Linked DNA regions of Homo sapiens: region 1 is linked to region 2. A link means that fine-mapping ties the variant in region 2 to the expression of a gene that starts in the linked region. Tissue or cell type: lung. Region 2 holds a variant in brackets; the other region holds the start of a gene. Each region is shown on its reference strand, or each on the opposite one.

What was found. PIP is the estimated chance that this variant, and not a neighbour inherited with it, causes the effect.
Region 1: it holds the start of ZNF671, and the variant in region 2 is the best candidate, but not a certain one, in a credible set for the expression of ZNF671 in lung (TOPMed, PIP 0.57).

Annotation. Positions count from the first base shown.
Region 1 is chr19:57,719,997-57,736,268 of GRCh38, forward strand. It overlaps ZNF671 (zinc finger protein 671), which reads right to left and starts at 7,628. Exons shown (of 4, transcript NM_024833.3): 1 at 7,395-7,628; 2 at 3,218-3,344; 3 at 2,320-2,442; 4 at 1-1,701. The coding sequence starts at 7,532. The coding sequence ends at 485. RefSeq lists enhancers at 7,327-7,827, 7,345-7,784, 7,925-7,974 and a silencer at 7,781-8,006.
Region 2 is chr16:3,269,419-3,285,690 of GRCh38, forward strand. ZNF263 (zinc finger protein 263) reads left to right here and starts at 14,073. Exons shown (of 6, transcript NM_005741.5): 1 at 14,073-14,787; 2 at 15,641-15,821; 3 at 16,263-16,272. The coding sequence starts at 14,401. RefSeq lists enhancers at 13,046-13,551, 13,662-13,851, 14,562-15,065 and a silencer at 14,222-14,381. The variant G/GT (reference allele first, on the strand shown) is at 7,407.

The DNA.
Region 1 (16,272 bases), not on the chromosome of region 2:
ACACCTTTTAGGGACTGGGGAGAGAAGAGAGGTCTGCCCGTCACAAGCATGCTGGGGTAAATGGTAAACGCAGTATGATTCTGCCAGATGGTAGGAGCAGATGGCTCCTGCCCCAGCAAAGGCCAATAGCCATTTAAAAAGTGCAACACAGCTGCTGAAAGCATCTCACATACTTGACACTCACAGGGAATCTCCCCAGTGGGAATGTCCATATCTATGAAGTTTCACTTCTTACTGATGGTTCCCTCCCAATGGCTGCTCCCAGAGTTCCACTCTAGGGTGAGCTGTTGGGCTGAACAGAGACAGCACATTGCTTAGACTGCTAAGGCCTGTGTCCGGTGTGAAATTCCCAATGGCGGGTAAGGTTCAGCCTCCAGGGGAAGGCTTTCCTGCATCTGCTGCACTCATTAACTACTGCTAGTTCCCCACCATATAGTAAGTCAGGGGCATTGGCCTAAGACTTTCCCCCACATTTGCTACACTCTTAAAGCTTTTCTCCAGCATGAACCCTCTGGTGCAGAACAAGTGTCTGTTTCCGGATGAATTCTCTCCCGCACTCACTACACACATAAGGCCTTTCCCCAGTGTGGACTTTCCAGTGCCTGATGAGGTTGGGTCTTTGAGTGAAGGCTTTCCCGCACTTGCTGCACTCATAAGGCTTTTCTCCAGAGTGAACTTTCTGGTGCTGAATGAGTTTGGAGATGCAGCTGAAAGCTTTACCACATCTGCTACACTCATAATCACTGCTGTGAATTCTCCAGTGTACATTAAGGTGGGAGCTTTGGCTAAAGGCCTTCCCACATTCACTGCACTCATAAGGCCTTTCTCCAGTGTGAGTTCGTTGGTGCAGAACAAGTGTGTGTTTCCGACTGAACTCTTTCCCACATTCGCTGCATACATAAGGCCTGGCTCCTGTGTGAACTTCCTGGTGTCGAATGAGATTAGACTTACTGCTAAAAAATTTCCCACATTTGCCACACTGATAGAGTCTTTCACCCGTGTGAACTCGCCTGTGCTCAATCAGGCCGGAGATTTGTCTAAAGAATTTCCCACATTCGCTGCACTCGTATGGCCTTTCTCCAGTGTGAACTGTCTGGTGTTTAAAGAGGTCATAGCTTTGGCTGAAGAATTTCCCACATTCGTTACACTCATAAGGCCTTTCTCCAGTGTGGATTCTCTGATGCCGAGCAAGTGTGTCTTTGCGGGTGAAGGCTTTCCCACATTCACCACACCTGTGATACCTCTGTCCCATGAGAAAGCCACTCACAAGCTTAGTGCTCTTGTGGGGCTTCATGCTGCTGAGAGAGGCCTGATGCTGAAGAAGGCCAGATGTGGCTGAAAAGTCTCTCCTACCTTTCCCACATGTGAGGGTCTTCTCTGGCACATGGACTCTGCAGCTTTTCACAGAGTCTCTGCCCTCCTTCCTTGGGAAAAGTTTCCCTCCATTGGGCTGGTTCTGGTGCTGGTCAAAGTCTGTACTGAACCAGAATTGCTTTCCACATGCCCCACACAAGTATGGTTTCTGCCTGGCTTTTCCCCCATGGTATTTAGCCAGGTGTAAGGTATCTTTCAATATTGGGCCACATATGTCACATGGGTGAGACTCCAGCTCTGCCATGAGAGTCCTGACCTCTGACACTCCTGCTACAAAAATGCTCTGCTCAGAAGATACCTCTTCATCCTCCACTCCATGCCAACAACCTGAAGAACACACAAATGCTGATTAAATGCATATTTACGGGTGGGAAGGGGCAACCTCATTGTATATGTGCATTTGACACATGCAGGAATAAGTTCATGAAACTGTTTTCAGAATGAGAGGCATGGTCAGAGTGAGGAAGGAATGGCTTTGAGGTAGTGAGCCTCTGGAGGTCATACCATGGGGGAGTGCCAATGAAGGGCCAGGATATAAGAATGGAACCAAACAAATGGCTTCCAGTAGGGCCTTGACTGTTAGTGACTCGTGAGTGCTATGAAAAATGTATCCAGTCCCAGGAAAATCCAACTACAAGTGAGCAGCTGGTGTTCAAAGACTATTTAAGAATATATGCACATCTTGTGAACATTAATTGCAGGTCAATACTGCCAAAAAATGTAGACAGAGAAGTGGTGAAACATGGGTGTAAGGTGAAGGCCAGAGGTGAGGGTGGCAAGGGGCTAACAAACTAGAAATGATATATCTTCGTGTCAAGAACAGGAAAGGACAGATAGAAACGCTGTGTGGCCACTGGCCCTGGAAACAAACACTGATGTGAACAGTTAATGTTGCCAGTTTTGAACCCAGCTTTGACATCGTGCCCTTCCCCGATGTCCACTCACCAGGTCTAAGTCCCCTCTGGGCCTCTCTTTCTGTGGCTGAAGTCATATCCACCTGGTCATACACCCAGGGCTCTTCTCCTCGCTCTAGTTTCATGACTGCACGTGATCTGGAAAATGCAATTCCTAAGGGAAAGTCAGAACAGGTGAGCAGCCAGCACTGGCCCATGGCAAACCACCCTATGATGGACTTCAGGTAAGAAAAATAACCTGGGAGGAGTTGTGCAGGAATAACCCAAAGGTCCCTATAAGTGACTATGTAAGTGCCTATAACTCCTGACAAGGTCAGGCCCTAGAAGATGTCACCTGAGCTGGGCGCAGTGGCTCACACCTGTAATCTAACACTTTCAGAAGTCAAGTCAGGGTATTACTTGAGCTCAGGAGTTCAAGACCAGCCTGGGCAACATGGCAAAACCACATCTCTACAGAAAAATTAGCTGGGCGTGGTGGTGTGTGTCTGTAGTCCCAACTATTCAGGAGGCTGAGATGAGAGGATGGCTTGAGCCTGGGAGGTAGAGGTTGCAATGAGCTGAGATCATGCCACTGCACTCCAGCTTGGGCAACAGAGCCAGACCCTGACTCAAAAAAAAAAAGAAAAGAAAATGTCACCTGGAGAAAGGGACAGAACCTTGGGCACAGAGGCATCATAATTTTGGACAGAGTCACCAGTACAGAAAGCGAACAGACCTAGTGAGATCCACTGGGCAAACCACAAGTCTCATGACCCCAAACCCTTGGCTGCACGGCTTCAGGACTACTCAGCAAGTAGGGAGGACACTCCATACAGCTTAGCCCTGGCATCTTGAGCACCTACTCCAGGAAACTGGTGAAGGAAGCGGTGCTCATGATCCCACCATAGGAAGAACAGAGTGGTAAAGGCAGAAAAGCATGAGGACCTTACCCAGTGAGGCTAAAAGTGCAAAGTTCTCCAGCATCACATCATGGTACAAAAGTCTCTGAGCATCATCAAGAAGCTCCCATTCTTCCCGAGAGAAGTATACAAACACATCCTCAAAGACCACACAGCCCTGCAACAAAAGGGACAGGAAGGACCATAAAAAGTCTCTTGACCAATGATCCCCAGTCTACCTACCCACAACATCCTGCTAACTAACCTCCCAGGTTCCCAAGTCAGAGATACCAGGCACTAGTACCACTGATCCTCACTCTCTCCTGATCACCCCAGCAATCACTGTGTCAGCCCACCACAACAACAGACAGGCTGACAGATAAATGCCATTTACACTCTGAGCCAGCCAACTCCCCTGGGGTACCCAAGATCACAAATCCCAGGTATGAACCTAGGCTCATTTTTCTCAGTTAAGCCCCAAGTCACAGGACCGTCAGCTCACACTCCCTCCTCTCATACACATCACTCTGGACTATGTCTCCCTCACATCTCCAGCTTCCCCCCCACCCTACTGGCCCACCCCATCTCCCTGGACTCCCCAAATGTCACTCTACACATAGCATTAAGAGTGCTTGCCGAAGGCAGATCACGAGGTCAAGAGAGCGAGACTATCCTGGCCAACATGGTGAAACCCCGTCTCTACTAAAAAAAAAAAAAAAAAAAATACAAAAATTAGCTGGGCATGGTGGTGTGTGCCTGTAGTCCCAGCTACTTGGGAGGCTGAGGAAGGAGAACTGCTTGAACCTGGGAGGCAGAGGTTGCAGTGAGCTGAGATCATGCTACTACACTCCAGTCTGGCGACAGAGTGAGACTCCATCTCAAAAAAAAAAAAAAAAAGTGCTTGCCAACAATCAGTATCCCATCTTGCTCCAAACCATCAATGGCCCCATTGCCAAGGAAAGCCCTATTGTTGCTCTGAAAGCCTCCCAATCTGGCCCTGTTCCTTTTTTCAATCACAGGCACCTCAAACCACATGCAGATCTCAGGTATCCTCAACCCTCTTCCATTTCTTTGTTGCACATTGTACCACTGTTTGATATGGATTGGATGTGTATCCCCTACAAATCTCATGTTGAAATGCAACCCCTAGTGCTGGAGGCCCAGGGAAGCCAAAAGATTGGACACCCCTGATTTAAAGTGAGAGATGTGTAACTACTCCTTTAACTTGAACTCTTAGAGGCCACTGTAGGGTTATTAACTGACCTGATTTCAATATTGCTGTGTGTCAGGGAATAGGAACGCTTAAAGAGAGGGAGAAGGATGGGGATCAGCTGGTCAGTGAGGCAGTCAGAAGACACATAACAATTTTTTTTTTTTTTTTTAGACAGATTCTTGCACTGTTGCCCAGGCTGGAGTGCAGTGGCACGATCTTGGCTCACTGCAAGCTCCATCTCCCAGGTTCACACCATTCTCCTGCCTCAGCCTCCCGAGTAGCCGGGACTACAGGCGCCCACCACCATGCCCGGCTAATTTTTTGTATTTTCAGTAGAGACAAGGTTTCACCATGTTAGCCAGGATGGTCTTGATCTCCTGACCTCGTGATCCACCCGCCTCGGCCTCCCAAAGTGCTGGGATTACAGGTGTGAGCCACTGCGCCTGGCCGACTTTAGGCATTTGACACAGATCTCTAACTAACTTAATGCAGGCAGCAGGAGATAAATACCCATGCTCAGCTGCATCATGAAAACGGAAGAAACTGGAACACATTCAACACCCTCAACACATTCCAGCTACATCAAAAGAGTCTGGTTCCTACCTTCTGGCCTTAGGATAATGACAGAATGTAGTACATCCTAAGTTCCAGAGAGTTACCAAAAACAGAGACAGCATTCTGGACAAACACAAAGATTAGAGAAGCACCTTAAATCTTTGGCCAGATGGATTCGTGAGATCCTTCTACTACACTAGGCAAGACTGGGAGAAGTAGTGAACTTTTTTTTTTTTTTGAAATGGGGTCTCAGCCAAGCATGATGACTCACACCTGTAATCCCAGCACTTTGGGAGGCCGAGGCGGGTGGATCTCCTGAGGGCAGGAGTTCGAGACCAGCCTGGCCAACATCGTGAAACCCCGTCTCTACCAAAAATACAAACAAATTAGCTGGGCGTGGTGGCGGGTGCCTGTAATTCCAGCTACTCAGGAGGCAGACAAGAGAATTGCTTGAACCCAGAAGGCAGAGGTTGCGGTGAGCCGAGATTGTGCCACTGCACTCCAGCCTAGGAAACGTGGTGAAACCCCGTCTCTACTAAAAATGGAAAAATTAGCGGGGTGTGGTGGTGGGCACCTGTAATCCCAGCTACTCGGGAGGCTGAGGTAGGAGAACTGCTTGAACCCAGGAGACAGGTTGCAGTGAGCCGAGATCGCGCCACTGCACTCCAGCCTGGGTGACAAGAGCAAGACTCCATCTCAAAAAAACAAAACAAAACAAAACCTGGCCAAGGCATGGTGGCTCACTCTTGTAATCCCAGCACTTTGGGAGGCCGAAGGGAGTGGATCAACTGAGGTCACGAGTTTGAGACCAGCCTGGCCAACATGGTGAAACTCTATCTAATAAAATACAAAAATTAGCTGGGCATGGTGATGCATGCCTGTAATCCCAGCTACTGGGAAAACTGAGGCAGGAGAATCACTTGAATCTGGGAGGCAGAAGCTGCAGTGAGCCAAGATCGCACCATTGCACTCCAGCCTGGGTGACAGAGCGAGACTCGTCTCCAAAAAAAAAATAAATAAATAAAATAAAACCAAAGCCAAGTGCAGTGGCTCACAACTGTAATCCAAACACTTTGGAAGGCTGGGGCCGGTGGATCAGTTGAGGTCGGGAGTTCAAGACCACCTGGGCCAACACGGTGAACGTCCCCCCCACTCCCCCGCCCCCACCCCACCCCTCCCACCTCCCCACCCCACCCCACCCCTCCCACCTCCCCACCCCCGTCTCTACTATAAATACTAAAATTAGCCAGGGGTGGTTGTGGGCACCTGTAATCTCAACTACTTGGGAGGCTGAGGCGGGAGAATCTCTTGAACCCGGGAGGTAGAGGTTGCAATAAGCCACTGCATCCCACCCTGGGCGACAGAGTGAGACTTCGTCTCAAAAAAAATAAAAAAAATAAATAAACTAAAACTAAAAGAAAACACACAAAATGAGGGTGAGATAATCAGATAGTAGCAATAGCACACCACCCATCGTTGCCATCCCAGGCCAAACTCCTCATACCCTACAGCTCTCTCCTCCTGCAAACACTGAAAAGAACCCTTTCAAATGGCAGGACCCTTCTCTTCTGGGGGGAGTCTCAAGAATGCCCACTCCCTCTTCCCTGCCCTGCAGTCCCAGCCTTCTCATCTCTTACCCCAGAGATATGAAATAACATACTTAAGACTGCCCCACTTAAATCTGACCTCCTGGCCTTGACCTACTCCAGACCGCTCCCTTCACCCCAAAGATATTCTAAGCCCAGCCCCTTCCCCACAACTTCAGACCTTCCTCTCTAGTTGCCTAAGTGAGGAAGCCTCCACTCTGAGACATCTCAAAGTCACCATTCCAAAATCCAAACGTTCATGGAAAAACAACAAAAACACCTTGCTCTTTCATGCCTTACTTTCAGTCATAGCTGCATATGATGGAGCAGAAAATCCTGTTGGTTTCAAATTTAAAACCTACCCAGAATATGATCACTTCTACCCACTCACCTGCCATTACTCTTGGTACATCCACCACCAAAGCATTCCTGGAATCCACTGCAGTAGCCTCCTTACCGGTCTCCTCGTATCCATCCTCGCAGTCCCCACCCCAAACTAATGTTCTCCCCTGAGCAAATTTCGAGACACTTAAAATCCCAGCTAAGATCACGTCCTTCTATTCAAAACCCTCAGTTAATCTCAACGCCCTCAGAATGAAGCGACAACTTCTCAGCCTGCCATTCCAGTCACAGTTCCTCAAACTCTGCTCTGTGTTGATGAGAACCCTGTCTCCCAAATGTTTGGGGGTCAGCAGCACCCCCGAGCCTTTACCTGCGCCGTCCCCTCCGCCCGTAACTCTCCCACACCCACCCACACCGAGATAGGACCCCGCCCCAAGAGTGCGTCGCTGTCCTGGGACACAGGGGCTGCAGGCACTTTACGATTCGGAGTCGGAGAAAGGGTGACTGAGGGCCCGGAGGACGCAGCACCCACCCGCGCGGAGTCCGTTAGCTCCGCCATAGGACCGTGGGCGCGGACAGCTGCCGGGAGCGGCAGGCGTCTCGATCGGGGACGCAGGCACTTCCGTCCCTGCAGAGCATCAGACGCGTCTCGGGACACTGGGGACAACATCTCCTCCGCGCTTTCCCAACACCTCCACCTGCGGCCCACACAAGCGTTACAGAACCCCGGCCAGGGACAGCCTGACAGAAACAAAATGTCCGCTACAAGGAGGAGCCGGAAGTCCCGCCCACGCACCCCCCGCAGGCACTGAAACACCCCTCTCCTGGGCCCTCATTGGGTATGCAACGTATAGGTTTGTGGGTAGAGTGTGGTTCCCACTGAGCTATCCTTCAAGGCAGGGGATTCTCGGCCTGGGCTCTTGGGAAAACTCGAAGTAGGAGGGCCAAGTTGTTTGGGAAAAGTAACCCGAGTTTCAAAGGGCTGACAGGACTTCCGTCCTCTTTTTTTTTTTTTTTTTTTTTTTTGAGACAGAGTCTCGCTCTGTCTCCCAGGCTGCAGTGCAGTGGCGCGATCTCGGCTGACTGCAACCTCCGCCTCCCGGGTTCAAGCGATTCTCCTGCCTCAGCCTCCCAAGTAATTGGGACTACAGGGGCCCGCCACCACGCCAGGCTAATTTTAGTACTTTTAGCAGAGTACGGGATTTCACCATGTTGGCCAGGCTGGTCTCGAACTCCTGACTTTGTGATTTGCCTGCTTCGGCCTCCCAAAGTGCTGGGATTACAGGAGTGAGCCATGGTGCCCGGCTGACTTCTGTCCTCTTAAAAGGCCTGGACCTAGATTCCCTGGAGTGTAGTATGCACCGATCGCAGAAATGTTGAGACATTTCAGATGTTCCCCAAAGCTGCAAAACTAAATAGATACACCACACCACAATGTCTCTTTGCGTACACTCACAGCTAGAAGCTAATAACTATTACCTTGTTGCTTTTTAAATATGTGTGCACTCAAGCTTTACAGTAACTTTTGTGAGCTTCAGTTTGGTCAGAGACGGAAGAGAAAATATTCCAAACAAGGCCTTGGAGTGGAAGAAGGAAGAGGGATGATGTGGAGTCTCCCTGAAACCAGTGGACAGATTTCTTCAGAAAACTCTTCCTGCCTGGGTAATCAGTGATGTCTCCATCACAGCAAAACACAGTGCAATTACCATTTAACCTGTCATTGTCATTGTAAGTATGGTGTCTGTGTTAGGAGGTGAGATTATCCCCGGGGGAAAAATCCTGACAGCTATTAATAATGATTCCGTAGTTATTTGAAGATAATGAAAGAAATTGCTCTAAGGAAATATCTGTGATAGATGGACAAAGTTAAGATCTCAGTAAAGTTTGAGCCTGAATACTAAAGTATAAGTGAAAGAATGAAGTTAAGCATATGGTTGTGTTGTGATCTTGACCACACTTTGTCAACAAAATGTGACTCTTTTTTCCTGAAAATGCTGAGCAATTGTAAAGAAGATATCAGAATGGTAAAAATCAACAGTGAAGTTGTGCTGTCTTGATAATTCACTGTTAAAATACACATCCAAGGAACACATACGAGCTCTCAGTAGGTGTTTTTCAAATGTGTTAGTAGCATGAAAGACATCACTAATAAAATTTCCAAGATTCCTATACATACAGGACATGTCCTGCATATAATGATTTTTGTCCTGCATCACCTTTTGACTTTGTCACAATACCCTAAATAAATATTCTAAAGAAGGCAACAGTCTTAAAGAAAAGAATTTTCAACCCGGAATTTCATATCCAGCCAAACTAAGCTTCATAAGTGAAGGAGAAATAAAATACTTTACAGACAAGCAAATGCTGAGAGATTTTGTCACCACCAGGCCTGCCCTAAAAGAGCTCCTGAAGGAAGCACTAAACATGGAAAGGAACAACTGGTACCAGCCACTGCAAAAACATGCCAAATTGTAAAGACCATCAAGGCTAGGAAGAAACTGCATCAACTAATGAGCAAAATAACCAGCTAACATCATAATGACAGGATCAAATTCACACATAACAATACTAACCTTAAATGTAAATGGGCTCAATGCTCCAATTAAAAGGCACAGACTGGCAAATTGGATAAACAGTCAAGACCCATCTGTGTGCTGTATTCAGGAAACCCATCTCACATGCAGAGACACACATAGGCTCAAAATAAAGGGATGGAGGAAGATCTACCAAGCAAATGGAAAACAAAAAAAGGCAGGGGTTGCAATACTACTCTCGGATAAAACAGACTTTAAACCAACAAAGATCAAAAGAGACAAAGAAGGCCATTACATAATGGTAAAGGGATCAATTCAACAAGAAGAACTAACTATCCTAAATATATATGCACCCAATACGGGAGCACCCAGATTCATAAAGCGAGTCCTTAGTGACCTACAAAGAGACTTAAACTCCCACACAATAATAATGGGAGACTTTAACACCCCACTGTCAACATTAGACGGATCAACAAGACAGAAAGTTAACAAGGATATCGAGGAATTGAACTCAGCTCTGCACCAAGCGGACCTAATAGACATCTACAGAACTCTCCACCCCAAATCAACAGAATATACATTTTTTTTCAGCACCACACTACACCTATTCCAAAATTGACCACATAGTTGGAAGTAAAGCACTCCTCCGCAAATGTAAAAGAACAGAAATTATAACAAACTGTCTCTCAGACCACAGTGCAATCAAACTAGAACTCAGGATTAAGAAACTCATTCAAAACCACTTAACTACATGGAAACTGAACAACCTGCTCCTGAATGACTACTAGGTACATAACGAAATGAAGGCAGAAATAAAGATGTTCTTTGAAACCAACGATAACAAAGACACAACATACCACAATCCTGGGACACGTCCAAAGCAGTGTGTAGAGGGAAATTTATAGCACTAAATGCCCACCAGAGAAAGCAGGAAAGATCTAAAATTGACACCCTAACATCCAATTAAAAGAACTAGAGAAGCAAGAGCAAACACATTCAAAAGCTAGCAGAAGGCAAGAAATAACTAAGATCAGAGCAGAACTGAAGGAAATAGAGACACAAAAAACCCTTCAAAAAATCAATGAATCCAGGAGCTGGTTTTTTGAAAAGATCAACAAAATTGATAGACCACTAGCACGACTAATAAAGAAGAAAAGAGAGAAGAATCAAATAGATGCAATAAAAAAAGACAAAGGGGATAACAGCACCCATCCCACAGAAATACAAACTACCATCAGAGAATACTATAAACACCTCTACGCAAATAAACTAGAAAATCTAGAAGAAATGGACAAATTCCTCGACACATACACTCTCCCAAGACTAAACCAGGAAGAAGTTGAATCTCTGAATAGACCAGGCTCTGAAATTGAGGCAATAATTAATAGCTTACCAACCAAAAAAAGTCCAGGACCAGATGGATTCACAGCCGAATTCTACCAGAGGTACAAGGAGGAGCTGGTGCCATTCCTTCTGAAACTATTCCAATCAATAGAAAAAGAGGGAATCCTCCCTAACTCATTTTATGAGGCCAGCATCATCCTGATACCAAAGCCTGGCAGAGATGCAACAAAAAAAGAGAATTTTAGACCAATATCCTTGATTAACATTGATGCAAAAATCCTCAATAAAATACTGGCAAACCGAATCCAGCAACACATCAAAAAGCTTATCCACCATGATCAAGTGGGCTTCATCCCAGGGGTGCAAGGGTGGTTCAACATACGAAAATCAATAAACGTAATCCAGCATATAAACAGAACCAAAGACAAAAACCACAGGATTATCTCAATGGATGCAGAAAAGGCCTTTGACAGAATTCAACAACCCTTCATGCTAAAAACTCTCAATAAATTAGATATTGATGGTAACGTATCTCAAAATAATAAGAGCTATCTATGACAAACCCACAGCCAATATCATACTGAATGGACAAAAACTGGAAGCACTCCCTTTGAAAACTGGCACAAGACAGGGATGCCCTCTCTCACCACTCCTATTCAACATAGTGTTGGAAGTTCTGGCCAGGGCAATCAGGCAGGAGAAGGAAATAAAGGGCATTCAATCAGGAAAAGAGGAAGTCAAATTGTCCCTGTTTGCAGATGACATGATTGCATATCTAGAAAACCCCATCGTCTCAGCCCAAAATCTCCTTAAGCTGATAAGCAACTTCAACAAAGTCTCAGGATACAAAATCAATGTGCAAAAATCACAAGCATTCTTATGCACCAATAACAGACAAACAGAAAGCCAAATCATGAGTGAACTCCCATTCACAATTGCTTCAAAGAGAATAAAATACCTAGGAATCCAACTTACAAGGGATGTGAAGGACCTCTTCAAGGAGAGCTACAAACCACTGCTCAATGAAATAAAAGAGGATACAAACAAATGGAAGAACATTCCATGCTCATGGGTAGGAAGAATCAATATCGTGAAAATGGCCATACTGCCCAAGGTAATTTATAGATTCAATGCCATCCCCATCAAGCTACCAATGACTTTCTTCACAGAATTGGAAAAAACTACCTTAAAGTTCATATGGAACCAAAAAAGAGCCCGCATTGCCAAGTCAATCCTAAGCCAAAAGAACAAAGCTGGAGGCATCATGCTACCTGACTTCAAACTATACTACAAGGCTGCAGTAACCAAAACAGCATGGTAGTGGTACCAAAACAGAGATATAGACCAATGGAACAGAACAGAGCCCTCAGAAATAATGCCGCATATCTACAACTATCTGATCTTTGACAAACCTGAAAAAACAAACAATGGGGAAAGGATTCCCTATTTAATAAATGGTGCTGGGAAAACTGGCTAGCCATATGTAGAAAGCTGAAACTGGATCCCTTCCTTACATCTTATACAAAAATTAATTCAAGATGGATTAAAGACTTAAATGTTAGACCTAAAACCATAAAAACCCTAGAAGAAAACCTAGGTAATACCATTCAGGACATAGGCATGGGCAAGGACTTCATGTCTAAAACACCAAAAGCAATGGCAACAAAAGCCAAAATTGACAAATGGGATCTAATTAAGCTAAAGCACTTCTGCACAGCAAAAGAAACCACCATCAGAGTGAACAGGCAACCTACAGAATGGGAGAAAATTTTTACAACCTACTTATCTGACAAAGGGCTAATATCCAGAATCTACAATGAACTCAAACAAATTTATAAGAAAAAAAACAACCCCATCAAAAAGTGGGCAAAGGATATGAGCAGACACTTCTCAAAAGAAGATATTTATGCAGTCGAAAAACACATGAAAAAATGCTCATCATCACTGGCCATCAGAGAAATGCAAAACAAAACCACAATGAGATACCATCTGACACCAGTTAGAATGGCGATCATTAAAAAATCAGGAAACAACAGGTGCTGGAGAGGATGTGGAGAAATAGGAACACTTTTACATTGTTGGTGGGACTGTAAACTAGTTCAACCATTGTGGAAGTTGGTGTGGCGATTCCTCAGGGATCTAGAACTAGAAATACCATTTGACCCAGCCATCCCATTACTGGGTATATACCCAAAGGATTATAAATCATGCTGCTATAAAGACACATGCACGTGTATGTTTATTGTGGCACTATTCACAATAGCAAAAACTTGGAACCAACCCAAATGTCCAACAATGATAGACTGGATTAAGAAAATGTGGCACATATACACCATGGAATACTATGCAGCCATAAAAAATGATGAGTTCATGTCCTTTGTAGGGACATGGATGAAGCTGGAAACCATCATTCTCAGCAAACTATCACAAGGACAAAAAACCAAACACTGCATGTTCTCACTCATAGGTGGGAATTGAACAATGAGAACACATGGACACAGGAAGGGGAACATCACACACTGGGGCTTGTTGTGGGGTGGGGGGATGGGGGAGGGATAGCATTAGGTGATATAACTAATGCTAAATGATGAGTTACTGGGTGCAGCACACCAACATGGCACATGTATACATATGTAACAAACCTGCACGTTGTGCCCATGTACCCTAAAACTTAAAGTATAATAATAATTTTAAAAAAGTCTATTCAAAGGGATAATATCGAGAATTTCCCAAAGATATTAGGAAGGATTATCTTTCCAAGAGAAAGATATCAATATTCAAGTACAAGAAGGCCGTAGAATACCAAGCAGATTTAACCCAAAGAAGACTACCTCAAGACATTTAGTAATCAAATTACCAAAGGTCAAGGGTAAAGAAAGGATCCTAAAAGCAGCAAAAGAACAGAAACAACACACAAAGGAGCTCCAATATGCCTGGTAGAAGACTTCCCAGTATAAACCTTATAGGCCAGGAGAGAGTGGCATGATGGATTTAAAGTGCTGAAGGAAAAAACTTTTATCCTAGAATAGTGTATTTGCTGAAAGTATCCTTCAAACATGAAAGAGAAATAAAAACTCTTCTGGATGAACAAAAGCTGAAAGATTTTTGTCAACACCAGACTTGTCTTACAAGAAATGTTAAAGGGAGTTCTGCAATCTAAAAGGATGTTAATGAGCAACAAGAAATCATCTGAAGGCACGAAACTCACTGGTAATAGTAACTACACAGAAAAAAAAAACAATATAGTAGCAATGTAACTGTGATGTGTAAACTCATATCTTGAGTAGAAAGACTAAAATATGAACCTATCAAAAACAATTCCAACAAGTTTTCAAGACATAGACAGTACAATAAGATATACATAGAAACAAAAAATTTAAAAGCTGGGTGACATAGTTAAAGTGTAATGTTTTTATTAGTTTTTCTCTTGTTTGTTATTTGTTTATGGGATCAGTGTTGTCATCAGTTTAAAATAATGGGTTATAAGATATAGTTTACCATGGAAGCTTCATGGTAAACTAAATTCAAAAACCTACAACAGATACCAAAAAATTTTTTAAAAAGAAATTAAAATATACAACCAGAGAAAATCACCTTCACAATAAGGAAGACAGGAAGGAAGGAAAGAAGGAAGAGAAGACCACCAAACAACATGGCAGCAGTAAATCCTTACTTATTAATAAAACATTGAATATAAATGGACTAAAGTCTCCAATCAAAACACACAGAGTTGCTGAATGAATAAAAATAAAGACCCAATGCTCTATTGCATACAAGAAACACCCTTCACCTATAAAGACACACATAGATTAAAATAAAAGGATGGAAAAAGATATTTCATGCCACTGGAAACGACGAAATAGCAGGAATAACTACATGTATATCAGAAAAATAGATTTCAAGAGAAAAACTGTGAAAAGAGACAAAGTCATTATATATAATGCTAAAGGGATCAATTCAGCAAGAGGACATAATCTTTGTAAATATATATACACTCAACACTGGAGCACCCAGATATAAAAGTAAATATTATTAGAGCTAAAGAGACAGATAGAGTCTGACACAGTGATAGCTGAAGATGACAACACCCCACTTTCAGCATTGAACAGGCCTTCCAGACAGAAATGGACTTAATCTGCACTATAGAACAAATGGACCTAATAGATATTTATAGAACATTTCATCCAACAGCTTCAGAATACCTATTCTTCTCAGCACATGGATCATTCTCAAAGAAATACTATATGTTAGGCCATAAAATATGTCTTGAAACTTTTTTAAATTGAAATAATATCAAGTACCTTCTCTGACCACAAGGCAATAAAAGTAGAAATCAGTAACAAGTGGACTTTCAAAATGCTACAAACACATGGAAATTAAACAGTCGTCTTCTGAATGACCAGTGGGTCAATTAAGAAATTGAGAAGTTGGGCTGGGCATGATGGCTCACGACTGTAATCCCAGCACTTTGGGAGGTGGAGCCAGGCGGATCACGAGGTCAGGAGTTCAAGACCAGCCTGACCGACATGATGAAACCCTGTCTCTACTAAAAATACAAAAATTAGCCGGGCATGGTGGCACACACCTGTAATCCCAGCTACTCAGGAGGCTGAGGCAGGAGAATTGCTTAAACCCAGGAGGTGGAGGTTGCAGTGAGTGGAGATTGCGCCATTGCACTCCAGCTTGGGAGACAGAGTGAGACTCCATCTCAAAGAGAAAAAAAAAAAAGAAAGAAATTGAAAAGTTTTTTGAGGCCAGGCGCATTGGCTCATGCCTGTAATCCCAGCACTTTGGGAGGCCAAGGCAGGTGGATCACCTGAGGTCAGGAGTTCGAGACCAGCCTGATCAACAAGGTGAAACCATGTCTCTACTAAAAATACAAAAATTAGTCGGGCATGGTGGCGGGCGCCTGTAGTCCTAGCTACTCATGAGGCTGAGGAATTGCTTGAACCCAAGAAGGTGGAGGTGGCAGTGAGCCGAGACTGCGCCGCTGCACTCCAGCCTGGATGATGGAGCAAGACTCTGTCTCAAAAAAAAAAAAAAGAAAAGAAAAGTTTTTTGAAACAAATGATAATAGAAACACAGCATGCCAAAATCTGTGGGATACAGAAAAATAAGTACTAAGAAGAATGTTTATAGCTATAAGTGCCTACATTACAAAAGTAAAAAAAAAAACTTTAAATAAACAACCTAATAATGCATCTTAAAGAATTAGAGATGCTAGAGCAAACCAAACCCAAAGTGAGTAGAAGAAAATAAATAGCTGGGCGCAGTAGCTCACGCCTGCAGTCCCAACACTTTGGGAGGCTGAGGCAGGTGGATCACCGGAGGTCAGGAGTTCGAGACCAGCCTGACCAATAAGGTGAAATTCCATCTCTACTAAAAATATAAAAATTAGCCAGACGTAGTGGCAGGCACCTGTAGTCCCAGCTACTCAGGAGGCTGAGACAGGAGAATTGCTTGAACCCGGGAGGTGGAGGTTGCAGTGAGCCAAGATCACGCCACTGCACTCTAGCCTGGGCAACAGAACAA
Region 2 (16,272 bases):
AAAGAATCCCATGCACAATAGTAGCAAAACCCATAACCAGACATGATAAGAAATTTGCAAGACCTATAAGAAGAAAAGTATATAGGATTACAGAATTTTAAAAGTCCCAGATCATTGAAGAAATACACCACAGTCGTGGATGGAAGAGTTAATATTACAAATATATCATGCATTCCTAAATTAATCAACAAATTATAAGCAAACCCAATTGAAATTGTAACGAGATTTTTTTTTTACATTTTTAAAAAAATGTGATCTTGCTATGTTGCCTGAGCTGGTCTCAAACTTCTAAGCTCATGCGATCTTCCTGCCTTGGCCTCTCAAAATGCTGGCATTACAAGTGTGAGCCACCATGCCCAGCCATAACAAGACTTTCTTTTTTTTTTCAGACTGGGTCTCACTGTTGCCCAGGCTGGAGTGCAGTGGCGTGATCTCAGGTCACTGCAACCTCTGCCTCCCAGGTTCAAGTGATTCTCCTGCCTCAGCCTCCCGAGTAGCTGGGATTACAGGTGCGCCCCACCATGCCCAGCTAATTTTTGTATTTTTAGTAGAGATGAGGTTTCGCCATGTTGGCCAGGCTGTTCTGCCCACCTCACCCTCCCAAAGTGCTGGGATTACAGGCATCAGCCACCGCACCAGGCTGCAAGATGTTTAAGAATGGGCTTTGACAAGTTGATTTTTAAAATTCATAGCCAAAAAAATTGTGAAAAAAATACAGTGGTGTGAGATGTATTGTAACAGATATAACAACAAGCTGTGAAAATACAGTAAATTAGAACAGTAATATGTTTTTACAAGAATGGATATAAGGTAAATGGAAACAAGATTCCGTAAGACGTGTGTATATGCAAAAGATGGTATTTAAAACCCAAGGGGAAAAGGTGGCCCAACTTATAAATAGTTTTGGGACTGTTGACAGTTGAGCTGGAAAACATAGACTTCTGCCTGACATATATAAAAAATAAACTCCATATATATATATATATATATATATATATATATATATATTTTTTTTTTTTTTTGAGACGGAATGTCGCTCTTGTTTCCCAGGCTGGAGTGCAATGGTGTGATCTGGGCTCATTGCAACCTCTGCCTCCCAGGTTCAAGTGATTCTCCTGCCTCAGCCTCCCAAGTAGCTGGGATTACAGGCATGTGCCACCACACCCGGCTAATTTTTTGTATTTTTAGTGGAGATGGGTTTTCACCATGTTGCCCAGACTGGTCTCGAACTCCTGACCTCGAGTGATCCACCCGCCTCGGCCTCCCAAAATGCTGGGATTACAACCATGAGCCACCGCACCTGGCCCAGATGATTTAAAGAAACACGAAGTGTAATATCTGTAAATTTGTTTAAATTTCGCAGTGAGGAAGATCTTTCTTTTTTTTTATTTTTTATTTTTTTATTGATCATTCTTGGGTGTTTCTCGCAGAGGGGGACTTGGCAGGGCCATAGGACAACAGTGGAGGGAAGGTCAGCAGACAAACAAGTGAACAAAGGTCTCTGGTTTTCCTAGGCAGAGGACCCTGCGGCCTTCTGCAGTGTTTGTGTCCTTGGGTACTTGAGATTAGGGAGTGGTGATGACTCTTAACGAGCATGCTGCCTTCAAGCATCTGTTTAACAAAGCACATCTTGCACTGCCCTTAATCCATTTAACCCTGAGTGGACACAGCACATGTTTCAGAGAGCACAGGGTTGGGGGTAAGGTCACAGATCAACAGTATCCCAAGGCAGAAGAATTTTTCTTAGTACAGAACAAAATGAAAAGTCTCCCATGTCTACTTTTTTCTACACAGACACAGCAACCATCTGATTTCTCAATCTTTTCCCCACCTTTCCCCCTTTTCTATTCCACAAAACCGCCATTGTCATCATGGCCCCTTCTCAATGAGCTGTTGGGTACCCCTCCCAGACGGGGTGGTGGCTGGGCAAAGGGGCTCCTCACTTCCCAGAAGGGGCGGCCGGGCAAAGGCGGCCCCCCACCACCCGGACGGGGCGGTTGGGCGGGCGGAGGCACCCCCCACCTCCCTCCCGGACGGGGCGGCTGGCCGGGCAGGGGCTGACCCCCCACCTCTCTCCCGGACGGGGCGGCTGGCCGGGCAGGGGCTGACCCCCCACCTCCCTCCCGGACGGGGCGGCTGGCCGGGCGGGGGCTGACAGATCTTTCTAACCAAGATAAAAAAACTGAAAAAGTTAAAAAATTCAGGTAAATAGAAAAATTAGAAAACTTCAGTATGACAAAAACAGCCATGAATATGGTTAAAAGGCTGGATGCAGTGGCTCATGCCTGTAATCCCTGCACTTTGGGAGGCCAAGGTGGGAGGATTGCTTGAGCCTAGGGGTTTGAGTCTCCACAATGTAGGCAGACCCCATCTCTACCCTCCCTCACAAAATTAACTGGCCATGGTGGTGTGCGCCTGTGGTCCCAGCTACTCAAGAGGCTAAGTTGGAAAGATCGCTTGAGCCTGGGAGGTCAAGGCTGCAGTGAGCTGTGATTGCACCACTGCACTCCAGTCTGGGTGATGGAGCAAAACCCTGTCTTAAAAAATAAAAATAAAAAAGGTGACAGAGAAAATATTTGTACATACGATAATACCTGGAATGTTAAAGCACTATAATTTTTTTAATGCTCAAAGGCTTAAATAGGCAACTCACGGCCGGGCGTGGTGGCTCACACCTGTAATCCCAGCACTTTGGGAGGCTGAGGCGGGTGGATCACGAGGTCAGGAGATCGAGACCATCCTGGCTAACACAGTGAAACCCTGTCTCTACAGACTACAAAAAATTAGCCAGGCATGGTGGCACGTGCCTGTAGTCTCAGCTACTCGCGAGGCTGAGGCAGAAGAATTGCTTGAACCCAGGAGGCGGAGATTGCAGTGAGCTGAGATCCTGACACGCACTACAGCCTGGGCAATAGACTGAGACTCCATCTCAAAAAAAAAAAAAAAAAAGGCAACTCAGAGAAGAAATACAAAGTACCACGTGAAAAGATGCCCAATCTCCAAGTAATCAGAAACATGACAGGCAACAAGGGGATATTATTTTTTTTTAAATAGCGGCAGAGTCTTGTTATGTTACCCAGGCTGGTTTAGAACTCCTGGGCTCAAGCAGTCCTCCTGCCTTGGCCTTCCAAAAGTGCTGGGATTACAGGCCCTAAGCCACCACACCCGGCTGAGGGGACATAATTTTTCACCCACTATATTATCACAAATTAATATGATTGCCACAGCCAACTTTAATGAGCATGCAGACATAGAAGCACTTTCACACCTCAGGTTACGAGTTAAATTTGTGAAGCTTTTTTTTTTTTTTTTTTTTTTTTGTGATGGAGTCTCACTCTTTTACCCAGGCTGGAATGCAGTGATGCAATCTCGGCTCCCTGCAACCTCCACCTCTGAGGTTCAAGCGATTCTCCCACGTCAGCCTCCTGAGTAGCTGGGATTACAGGCACCCGCCACCATGCCCGGCTAATTTTTGTATTTTTAGTAGAGACGGGGTTTCACCGCGTTGGCCAGGCTGGTGTCAAACCCCTGACTTTAGGTGATCCGCCCGCCTCGGCCTCCCAAAGTGCTAGGATTACAGGTGTCAGCCACTGCTCCTGGCCTGTGAAGCTGTTTTGGAAGGTGATTTGCTGCAAGTTTTCAAAATTAAAAATGCACAAGCCTAGGCCAGGCACGGTGGCTCATGCCTGTAATCACAGTACTTTGGGAGGCCGAGGTGAGCAGATCACTTCAGCCCAGGAGTTTCAGACCAGCCTGACCAACAAAGTGAGACCTCGTTGCTACAAGAAATAAAAAATTGGGTGGCACATGCCTGTGGTCCCAGCTACTCTGAAGGGTGAAGTGGGAGGACTGCTTGAGCCCAGGAGGTCAAGGATGCAGTGAGCCAAGATTATGCCACTGCACTCCAGCCTGGGTGACAGAGGGAGAACATATCTCAAAAAAAAAAAAAAAATGCACAAGGCTTTTGCTTCAGTGATTCCATTTCTAAGACTATATCCAATGTACCCAAATATGCACGTCTGAGATGTTCATTGGAGTATTGGTTGTTAAAGGAAACAGCTGGAGACAATCTAAATGGGGAGACAGTCAGTACAGCTGTGGTATATCCATAGTATGCATGCTCTACAGTTGTTAAGAGTGGCAATGGCCTATTCATCTGGACCTAGATAGATGTCAAAGGCACACTGCTAATATTTAAAAAGAAGATCTGGAAAATATGTATAGCATGGTGTATACATATAATTAGCCCATATAGGTACATGAAGTTCCTCAGGAGACTGGGAGGATGCACAGCCAGGTAAACCTGTAGAGCATGGAGACATTAGGTGGGAGGTGATGGAAAAGTCCCTCAGTTTTTTTTTTTTTTGAGACAGTCTCGCTCTGTTGCCCAGGCTGGAGTGCAGTGGCATGATCTCAGCTCACTGCAACCTTCACTTCCTAGGTTCAAGCGATTCTCCTACCTCAACCTACCAAGTAGCTGGGATTACAGGCGCCCGCCACCACGCTCAGCTAATTTTGGTAGTTTTAGTAGAGATGGGGTTTCACCATGTTGGCCAGGCTGGTCTTGAACTCCTGACCTCAAGTGATCCTCCCCGCCTTGGCCTCCCGAAGTGCTGGGATTACAGGTGTGAACCACTGTGCCCAGACCTTCATTTTGTTTGTATACATCTGTATTCATTGAATCTTCTACAAGGTTTATTTATTCATGTATGCCTATTGTTCCGGTTATCTATTGTTGCATGAAAAACACCCCAAAACTTAATAGTGTAAAACAGCAGCCCCTTTATTATGCTCACAACTTGGTGGTCAGATTTCAAGCAAGACCCAGAGGCACAACTCATCTCGTTCCACAGTGGCTGGAGCTTCAGCTGAGGTGGCTCAAATGGCTGGAGAACACTTCCCTGCAGCAGAACCTACAACCATCTTCCTCCCCTTTCTGGAAAAGGTTTGTTTCTGAGGCTGGAGTCAGAGTCTTCAAACCAACAGCCAGAGATAACATTGCTAATTATGCCCCTTTCCTTGGTCTTTATTTGAAATGAAACGGTTCTGTTACCGGTAGAGGGTCTTGATGCAAATTGTCCAGGTTCTTGGCATTTTGAACAAAGAACTGGACAAAACGCACAGCAAAGCAAGGTAAGAATGAAGCAGCAAAAGCAGAGATTTATTGAAAGTACATGCCACAGTGTGGGAGCCGGCCAAGCAGCAGCTTAAACACCCCCTAGAGGTTTCCCATTGGCCACTTGGTGTTCACCCCATGTAAATGAACCAACCTCAGTCAGTCTGATTGGTTGCAACCAATCAGAGGCTGAAGTGAAGTTACAAAGTTACACTCCTGTGCAAACGTCTGATTGCAAAAAGCAGCCAGTCAGAGGTACCTTCAATTTCCCATCTGCCCCTCAGAAAAGGTGGGCATTGGCAAAGGGAGTAGCCTCTGGTCCTTTTGTTACTTATGCGTGGAAAGTTGGGGTTTTTCTTTCGATTTAGTTCTAGGAAGTCAAGGTGAACTGGCCTTCAGTTCCCTGCCTCCAGACCCTATTCTGCCTCAGTTCAAATACACAAAACCTAACAAATACCTATATGACCACCTTCCACAACTAATCAATGGCAGTGTCTATTAGTTTGACTTTGTTTCTATTTTACAAGAAGCAAAAGCACCTCTGGACTCTCCACTAGAGAGCTATGTGCAGCCACTCCAGCATGGTGCTCTCAGGGTAACCAGACTTCTTACACTAGCTCCAAGTGCAAGTTCTCCTAGCAAACAAGATAGAGGTTGCAAGGCCTTTTATGACCTCACCCTGGAGGTCACACCACATCTGTATTTCATTGTATTTCATTGGTAGCAGTCACAAGCTGCCCAGATACAAGGCAGAGGGACAGATGCCCCACTTCTTGATGGGATGAGTGGCAAAAAAAAATCTGTGACCATGTTTAAAACCCAGAAGATTTGGCTGTTAGAGATTTGTGAAGTTTTTAAAAGTTAAGAATTATTAAAACAAAAATAAAACCCAGGAGACAAGGTAGTGGAAGTGTGTCCCTCCCATTCACTGACCAAGGTGAGGGGACTCTAGTCCTTTGCTGCTGACCTTCAGCCTCCCTTCCTCTTAAAAAGAGGTCCTAGTTGGGGAGCGATGGCTGAAGAGTTACCATAAAATACCAAGTAGGAGCGAGGTGCGGTGGCTCACGTCTTTAATCCCAGCAGTTTGGGAGGACAAGGTGGGAGGATCGCATGAGCCCAGGAGTTCAAGACAAACCTGGGCAACATAGCAAGGCTCTGTCTCTACAAAAAAGGAAAAGAGTACAAAGTAGGGCCATTTAGTATGGTTTCATCTTTATTAAAAGTCTTAAGTTTTAGATTTTTGAAGTTATCACCAATAAAATATCCAGTTGTGGTCTTGTGTTGAGTGAAAATGTTATTTAAATGCAGATATTTAAAATATACTACAATTTTTGTGCTATTTTAATTTTCTAGGAGCCTTAAAAAATGTGTGGCTACTGAAACTGTGCCCCAAAGAGTTAAAGAAATCAGTAACTAACAGAAATTCTTGAGTCTGCAGGATGGCAGATAAGAAACAACTCGCTGGCCAGGTGCAGTGGCTCACACCTGTAATCCCAGCACTTTGAGGGATTGACCCACTGAAGTGGGTGGATTACATGAGGTCAGGAGTTCGAGGCCTGGCAGGTTGGTGGGCACCTGTAGTCCCAGCTGCTTGGGAGGCTGAGGCAGGAAAATCACTTGAACCCGGGAATCGGAAGTTGCAGTGAGCCGAGATCAGGCTATTGCACTCCAGCCTGGGCGTTGCAGCGAAACTCCTACTCAAAAAAAAAAAAAAAAAAAAAAAAAAAAAACAACTTGCTGAAATGCTGAAGAAATGCTGAAACTCCCTCCCTATAAGATAAAAGAAGAACAAGCAGAAATCTGTTGGAACCAATAACGCTGACTGGAGTCTGCACAGAATGAGCTTGCTGACATCACAGCCTGAATTTTCAACACAGGTTTCATGCTGTCCCTGAATTTGCATGAGACCCATTAAGTAGCTTGAAGAGGTAACTGCGAAAGCCCAAGGACTTTCCACATCTCCCCTTTCCTTCCACTAATAATCACCTACTAATCTCAGAATCCACCGCCTGAACCTTTTCTAATAAAAATAACTGCCTTAAAGCCAACACGGGGAGACAGCCTTGAGCTTGATATTCCTGTCTCCTTGTGAGTCGACTTGCAATACAAAGCTTTTCTTTTTTCAGAACCACAGTGTCATAGTATTAGCTTCTAGGGTATCAGGCTGGAATGCACTGGTGCGATTATGGCTCACTGTAGCCTCAATCTCCTGGACTCATGCAGTCCTCCCACCTCAGCCTCCCAAGCAGCTAGGACCACAGGCACTTGCCACCACGCCTGGCTAATTTTT[G/GT]TTTTTTTTGTAGAAATGGGATCTCACTATGTTGTCCAGGCTGGTCCCGTGCTCTTGGGCTCAAGTGATCCTTCTGCCTATGCCTCCCGAAGTGCTAGGAAAAGCCTCCCAAACTGGAAAATATGGGATGGCTTCCCAGTTGTTAAAACACCCTGATTTGGGAGCTGATTGCTTATAAACACTAAGAAAAAGCTAAGAGCTGAGTTCGCCTTCCCATTCTGTTCTCAGGTTTCTCTCCTTATAGAGAGGTTCTGATCATCTACAAGCTTTGCTAAATCTGGGGTGTTTCTCTACTGATTTCCTAAATGTTTGTAGTCTTTTTTGTAAAATTGATGATTCAATTTTATTCTCCTCTGAAGTAACAATAGATGCAGAGTCTGACATTTCTTCAGCTTTGAAGAATCTGCATTTTCTCTCCTGATCTCAAAACCTGTAAGAAAAAGAAATTGCAGATATCACCCTGTCCAAGGAGAAAGAGGGGGGAAAATAAGAGTTGTATTAAAGTAGTAGAGAGAAAACAGAAACTGCTAAATAGAATCCCAAAGCCTTTTATTCCAAGTAAGGCTGAATTTTTCTTTTCTTTCTTCCCGTTTCTTTCCAGTGAACACTCACCTCTCCTGGAGTCAAGTCATTGTTTCTTTCCTTTGGAATCCTGCTATTCCTGCACCCATGGCTCTTCTCTAGGCTCCAGTGGGAAGTACAGGTCAGGGTTTGGGACTAGATATACTGGTCATAAGAAATACAGGGAACATGATAGTCTGGGTCACACTGATTTTTCCTGAGTTCAAGCCGATTTCCAGGACAGATGGCCTCTCCATATTTATTTCCTTCTCAATTAGGATTATTTCACCTGGAGCCTCTAACAGGCAGCTGGCTTTTTTTGAGACAGGGTCTTGCAGTGTCTCCCAGGCTGGACTGCAGTGGCACAATCTCAACTCACTGCAGTCTTGACCTCCCAGGCTCAAGGGATCCTCCCACCTTAGCCTCTGGAGTAGCTGGGACCACAGGCATGTGCTACCATGCCCTGATAATTAAAAAAAAAAACTCTGTAGAGAGAAGGGCTCTCTCTGTTGCCCAGGCTGGTCTTGAACTCCTGGCTCAAGCAATCCTCTTGCCTCGGCCTCCCAAAGTGCTAGGATTACAGGTGTGAGCCACTGTGCCCAGCATAACAGGCAGTTTTTCAACATTAGAACAAAATCTAGGAGTACGAAAGGCATACTGGAAAAATAATAAACAAACATTAGAACAAAAACAAAATAGGGGGAAGATCCTTTTGTGCTCAATTCAAAGCTATTCTCCTCCAATCTCTGGGAAGAGGAGTGAATTAATTCTGCTAGTCAATGCACTGATTTAGTTTTACCTCATTTTTTGAATATTTTGATAATAAAATTATCTAAGAACCAAAATATCAAGTTAATCTTCCTAAAATTCTGACTATATTAAAACTGAGAACTATTCTCTTATTGAATCCAAGAGAAGAGAGAGGTAAATGTGGTAGTTAAACTATGTCCTGGATTAATTTCAGTTAAGAGACTTTCAAATAAGAATTAGTATCTGAACTGGTTTGGTTGGCAACCAGCAAAAACAATCTTTACATGTTTGTTTTAGCTGAAGCCTAGAAGTAGATTGTCTTGATATTAACCAAAACAAATATCTAAGAGTGTTTCCATCAATCCAGACAATTAGTAAAATGGTCTCCAGTGTGGTCTCCCCTGTGTCCTGCCATGCCTCCCCTCACTGACAAAAGTTTGGGTTGCACCCTCTTTCCAAGTTCTTTCCTCTCCCTCCTCATCTTGACAGTTTACTGGTCTGAAAAAAAAAATAGGTTGGTAAATAGTGATCTAATATGCAAATAGAGGAATATGTCTAAATATTAACATTATCAAACAATATTAGTAAGACAGTTTGGTTAATGTTAGTCCAAAGGAAAATTTAAACTCCAGAACATTTAATCAAAATATAAGTGGCGTAAAATGTCTCATTTTATCTTTTCATGAGGAAAGGTAATATATTCCATATTAATAAAAATAAAATGCATTTCAAATGAAATGCCATTTAAATTTGCTATTTTGTTTATGATTGGATTTCAAAGCTAGGAGTAGGATCAAAGAGCATGTGGTACAGGTAAAAGAAAACCCTAAATCCAGCGCTTTGGGAGGCCGAGGCGGGTGGATCACCTGAGGTCAGGAGTTCAAGACCAGCCTGGCCGACATGGCAAAACTCCATCTCTACTAAAAATACAAAAATTAGCCAGGCATGGTGGCGTGTGCCTGTAATCCCAGCTACCCGGGAGGCTGAGGCAGGAGAATCGCTGGAACTTGGGCAGAGGCTGCAGTGAGCCTTGACTGCGCCACTGTACTCCAGCCTGGGCGACAGAGCAAGGCTCTGTCTCAGAAAAAAAGAAAACCCTAAGTCATAGATCAAAGGAATGCTGTAGTCAAGTAAACGAGGGGAGAGACCAAAGCTGGGGGGAGTGGCAAGTAGCAAAGGCTTAGAGTGGCAGAAGCTCCCGGAGGCTGAATGTACCCTAAGATGAAAGACAGGAAAAGCATCGATTTAAAATGACGGCTATGTTGCCCAGGCTGGTCTCAAAACTCCTGGGCTGAAGCAATCCTCCTGCCTCAGCATCCCTAATAGGTGGGGCTACAGTTGCATGTCACCACAACCAGTTAATTTTTAAAATTTTTTTTCTGTAGAGACGAGGTCTTGCCATGTTGCCCAGGCTGGTCTCAAAATCCTGGCCTCAAGTGATTCTTCCACCTCAGCCTCCCAAAGTGCTGGGATTACAGGCGTGAGCCACAGTACGTGGCCTAGTCTTGAAAGTCTTAACACTGTAGATTTCACCAAATGTCACTTTGAAAACCAGGCACAGATAACTGGCCCCTTGAGTACAAAGGAATCTGTAAGAGCTAGTTAGGGAATGAAAGAAGTCCCAGAGACAGAGTCTAGTACCCATGAGACCTAAAACCAGGAGTGGTAAGGGTTCTTTGTCGAAGATTCAAATTTATTTTTCTCTGCAACAGTCACGAAGTCACCTGCAGCTGAGGATGAGAAAACACAGTTAAGTCCTCACTTAACATCACTAATACGGTAAGTCCTCACTTAACATCATTGATAGGGTCTTGGAAACTGGGACTTAAAGGGAAAAGACATATAATGAAACTAATTTATTTTTGTCATCAACCTTATAACAAAATGTGCTTTCACTTAAGATAACAGTTTCCAACCTATCTAGGACATTGAGGACTTACAGTGTTAAGAAAGTAGAATCTGTACTGGTTTCAAAGGCGCTTACTTCTCTTCACTACTTACTTTTCACCAAAGCCCTAAAGTAGCAGTTCTTAGTCTTTTTGGCGGTTTTTAGAACTTGATGAAAGCTATGAACCCACTTACTAGAACATACAGATACACACACACACACACACACACACACACACACACACACACACACACATCCAATTTTGCATACAGTATCAAAAGGTTTACAAAAATCTCCAAACCCATCCATGGATCCTCTGGAACTGCATTGGCCAGTATGGTAATACTTGGCAAGACTAACTCCATTTTAAGTGCCCATTGGCTACCATCACAGAAAGTTCTATTGGATAGCACTGCTCCAGACATGGAGGCAGCTTAAGAACCCTGGCCCTGGCCGGGTGCAGTGGCTCACGCCTGTAATCCCAGCACTTTGGGAGGCCAAGGTGGGCGGATCACCTGAGGTCAGGAGTTCAAGAGCAGCCTGGCCAACATGGCAAAACTCTGTCTCTACTAAAAATACAAAAATTAGCCGGGTGTGGTGCGTGGTGCCTATAATCCCAGCTACTCGGGAGGCTGAGGCATGAGAATCGCTTGAACCTGGGAGGCGGAGGTTGCAGTGAGCTGAGATCCCACCACTGCACTCCAGCCGGGGCGATAGAGCGAGACTCCATCTCGAAAAAACAACAAAAAACCCCTACAAATCTGCTGGCCTGTTAACACCACTCCTAGTCTAATACCAGCTAGTCTGTTTTCCACATACTGGCAGATCACAAAGAATTGGAGGAGGACTACTACCACCACTGATTTTGAATAACCCTGAAAGTTCATCTTTTTTTAAAAAATTAAATTATTATTGCTATTTTTTGAGATGCAGTCTTGCTGTCGCCCAGGCTGGAGTGCAGTGGCACAATCTCAGTTCACTGCAACCTCTGCCTCCCAGGTTCAAGTGATTCTCCTGCCTTAGCCTCCCCAGTAGCTGGAAATACGGGCGTGCGCCACCATGCCCGGCTAATTTTTTTGTATTTTTAGTAGAGACGAGGTTTCACCGTGTTAACCAGGAGATGATCTCGATCTCCTGACCTCGTGATCCGCCTATCTTGGCTTCCCAAAGTGCTGGGATTACAGGCGTGAGCCAGCGCACCTAGCCTAAATTCATCTACTTTTAAGTACCTATAAATAGCATAAAATCAAAAGGACCTTAGATAGAAAATGATTAATCCCTCATTCTCCCTATCTCAAGGTATGTGTAGTTCTGCAAACATTCCCATGCCACAGATTCTGCAATAATAATCTGAGTGGCTTTTCTTTTTTGAGATAAGGCACACATTCAGGAACTTGCTGTGCATGCGTAACAGCTACTATTTATCGGATTCATACTATGTGCCAGGTACTGTTCTAAGCATCCTGTGTAGCTCCGCTCATTTCATCCTAACCCAGTGATATGAGGTGAGGTGCGTATAGTAGTCCCTCAAAACAAATGAGGAAACTGAAGTTTGGGGTTTAGTGAGATTACATAAGTTGCCTGAGATTACATAGTAAATGTCAGAGAAAAGTGGTTTTGAGGCTAGAGTCTTCTGCAATTGGTTATGAGTCTAGAATCTATGTCTCTTGAAATAGGAATGTCCAATGATCGTGCCATTGCACTTCAGCCTGGGCGACAGAGCAAGACCCTATCTCAAAAACAAAAGAACAGGAATGCCTAAAACCACCAGAATGGTCCTAGGGAGCAAACAAGGCTTTCCAAACTGGACCTTGAGTGCTATGGGGTCGCTGGCTCTGCATCTGCCACGACAGCCTGTGGATCTGTCATCTTCCCTGGAATAAAATTTTTAAAAAAGGCCAGGCGTGGTGGCTCACGCCTGTAATCCCAGCACAGTGGGAGGCTAAGGCGGGCAGATCACTCGAGGTGAGGAATTTGAGACCAGCCTGGCCAACATGGTGAAACCCCGTCTCTACTAAAAATACAAAAATTAGCCGGGCGTGGTGGTGGGCGCTTGTAATCCCGGCTACTCAGGAGGCTGAGGCAGGAGAATCGCTTGAACCCGGGAGGGGGAGGTTTCAGTGAGCCGAGACTGCGCCATTGCACTCCAGCCTGGGCAACAAGAGCGAAACTCCGTCTCGGAAAAAAAAAAAAAAGAAAAAAACTAAAATATCAGTACTCTTTTCACTTAGTCATCACAAACCCCTTTAATCCCATATTACCCTCTACTATCATGGTAGCCTCACCTTTGACGACAGACTAGCTGTGTGACCCAAGTAAATGACTTCAGTGCCACCACCTGTAGGAAGGGGCTGCTAATAGCATCTGCTTCATACTAACGTGTTTTCAGGATCGATCTGCATATAAACGCTCAATACACGGTAACTGATTGTCACATTCTATCCCAGGACGCTTCCATTTGCGGATCTCATGGCCCGGAGGACCTGGGCCGCCTCACAACTGGGCAGCCCCGCTCACCGACACAAAGCCCACAACCGCGCCCAATAGGGAATCGGCCCTGCGGCCCTCCTGCCACTCGCCCCCAACTATCACAGTCCACGGCGGAGCTGGAGGCAGATCCCGCCCTTGCAGGGCTGGGTAAGAGACTGAAACTTGGAGAATGAACTGCAGGCGCTGCACATCTCGGGCAGATTTAAAATTCGGTCTAAAATCGGAAGCAGGTGCCGCGAACCCAGACCCGAGCGCTCCTCTGGGACGTCCAGCCGCAGAAGCGAGCCCAAAGCCCAGCAGGGTTCTCCGCGGGACTCGGGGTTTCAGAACCGCCGGGCTCTTGGGCGCTCGCCCAGGGCGCACGCGCAGTCGCGAGGCCGCGCCGCGGACTGCATCTCCCAGCAGGCCCCGCGCAGCAGGCCACGCGGCGCCACTGACTGGGCGGGCGGCTAGCTCCCTGGCCTCCCCGACATGCCGAGGAGCCCCTGGCTTCCGGAGCCGACGAGGCCGCAGGGGCCAATGGGACCATCTTCAGCCAGCCCAGAGTAGCCGAAGCGGGTGGGGCCTGGCTTGGGAAAGGATTCATCCGGGGAAGCTGATTAACAATTCAGATTTCCGGGTCTCACCCCGACACTGACGCACTGGAGAGCGCGTGGCCCTGGGATCTGCGTTTTCCCAAGCGCTCCGGAGTAATTCTAACCCAGGTTGCCCGCCAGTCACAACGACCTCAGGCTTGTTTTCTTCGCTTGGATCCAGCTGCCCTGCCCCCAGTCACTCCCAGAATTTCAGGGCGCGCCCCGTGGCCCCGCCTCTCGTCTCCAATTGGTCCCTCGCTCATCCAGTCCCCGTAGGCCAATCTTCCCTTCTCATTGGTAGGCGGTGAGTGTGTGGAGAAACCTGACCTAATGGGCGCTGGAGTTCGCAAAACGTGACCCGGAAATTGGTCACGAGCAGGCGCCGTGGGCTTGTGGACGCCTAACTTGCGCGCTGAGATTTCCGGCGTGGGAGCAGAGGTCTGAGTCTTGCGTGGGTCCTCTATATAGGGTGAGAAGCGTGGCGCTCGGTTCCTGCCTCGGGGAAGTCCTGGCGCAGATGGGCCACGGGGCCGGCGTGGCGGCGCCTGGGACCGACTGAGGCCTAGGCGCCGGAGCCGGCCGCGCCTGGGCTGGAGCGGGGCTCCTCGGCCTGGACTGGGAGCCCCCGGCCCCGGGCTCCTGCTGGCGCCGTCCAACCTTACATGGGTTCAGGGCGCCTTCGTAGGCGGGCACGGCTGGTTTCGGGCTAAGGCGCTCTGGAGACCTGACGATGGCGTCGGGCCCGGGCTCCCAGGAACGGGAAGGGCTCCTGATAGTGAAGCTGGAGGAGGACTGCGCCTGGAGCCAGGAGCTGCCCCCACCTGACCCAGGACCGAGCCCCGAGGCCTCCCACTTGCGCTTCAGACGGTTCCGCTTCCAAGAGGCAGCTGGTCCCCGGGAAGCCCTCAGCCGGCTCCAAGAGCTTTGCCATGGGTGGCTTCGGCCTGAGATGCGCACGAAGGAGCAGATCTTGGAGCTGCTGGTGTTAGAGCAGTTCCTGACCATCCTGCCCCAGGAGATCCAGAGCAGGGTGCAGGAGCTGCATCCGGAGAGCGGCGAAGAAGCGGTGACCCTTGTGGAGGATATGCAGAGAGAGCTTGGGAGACTGAGACAACAGGTGAGAGAGAGAGAGAGCTGTTTTATCTGTGGTTTGTTTAGCCCTGAGCACTGGGACATTGCGCCCCCGGTCGAATTCAAGTAAATTGCCCTGAGTAGACCTTACGTGGGGAAGAGGACTTGTGATTTAACCTGGAACACTCATCCTCCAGATTTTCCCCCAAATGAACGAAAGCAGTGAAGAGTGCCCTGTTTCCACGCGGAGGCGGTGTCCCTGCAACAGTTAGTGTTAGCCATGGAGTTAGATCGCCAGCGTTCAAATCCTCAATCTGCTAGTACTAGCTTTGTTACTTTGGCAAGTTACTTGATCTCTTTCGGCCTGTTTTCCTATTCGTAAAATGAGGATATTAACATACTTTCTAGGGCTTAGAGGGAGAGCAGCATGTAAAGTTGTGAACACTACTAGCTTATGAGTGCTTAGTACTTGTTACCTGTTGTTATGTTAGGGTCCACGGTCTGGTCTTCTCTGCAAAGCTGGGCCTCCGTTAATTGTGAACTTTGAAAGATAATTTGGCACCGAGGCCCTGAGGTCATTGGTCCCCAGGGCTACCCCAATTTAGCCTATCCTATAGTGAGGAATAGAAGCACCTAGAAAAGGTGGGGAGAGCAAAAGGGAGTGAGGTGTATCTTAAGAGCTGTGTGGGGAAGGTGTGCTCTGGGAGTGGGCCCTTTCCCTAACCCCTCCCCCTGCACATGGGATCAAAAAAGCCTTTAGTGTAAACCATTTTTCTGTTACCTGGGCCCAAAGGGATCGCCTGAGGTTCTCTGTTGAAGGTTTGCTCTCAGTATCCTATACTAATTTCCCTTCCTCTTGGGCCCTGTTGTGATGATGAGTGATGTGGGTTGGTTCCCAGGTCACAAACCATGGGCGGGGAACAGAAGTGCTTTTGGAGGAGCCTTTGCCTCTGGAAACAGCACGAGAGTCACCGAGCTTCAAGCTGGAGCCAATGGAGACTGAGCGAAGCCCTGGCCCCAGGCTGCAGGAGCTGCTAGGCCCCAGCCCCCAAAGGGACCCCCAGGCTGTAAAGGAGAGGGGTGAGGCACAGTTATCTGGGCAGGTGGGAGGGAGGAGGGGCTTGGGGGTTGCCCCCGACACTAGCTGGATGTAGCAATGATGCGAAGGAGAAGGAATTTCTGAAGATCAGGTTCTCACCTGTGGAATGAAAGACCTGCAGTTGGTGGTGTGGGTTCTCCTGGGGCTGGGGGAAGGGAAGGGAGTCTCAGTAGAGCCCTTTTTTATGCAGAACAGAGGCGATTTAGAACCACTTGAATGACGCAGGGTTTGGAGTGCTACTCTTGGTACTCCTTCCCTCTCACCCTGTCATTTTGGATATCAGCTGATTAGGCCTCTGTGCAGTTTAGCGTCATTCCCAAAAGCAGAGGCTGGGTGTTGGGGAATGGATACTGTGTTTTAATAATCCTTGGGTTGCCAAGAGTTAGGAATGCCATTCTCATTATAATTTCTGTCACCTTCAGCATTATCTGC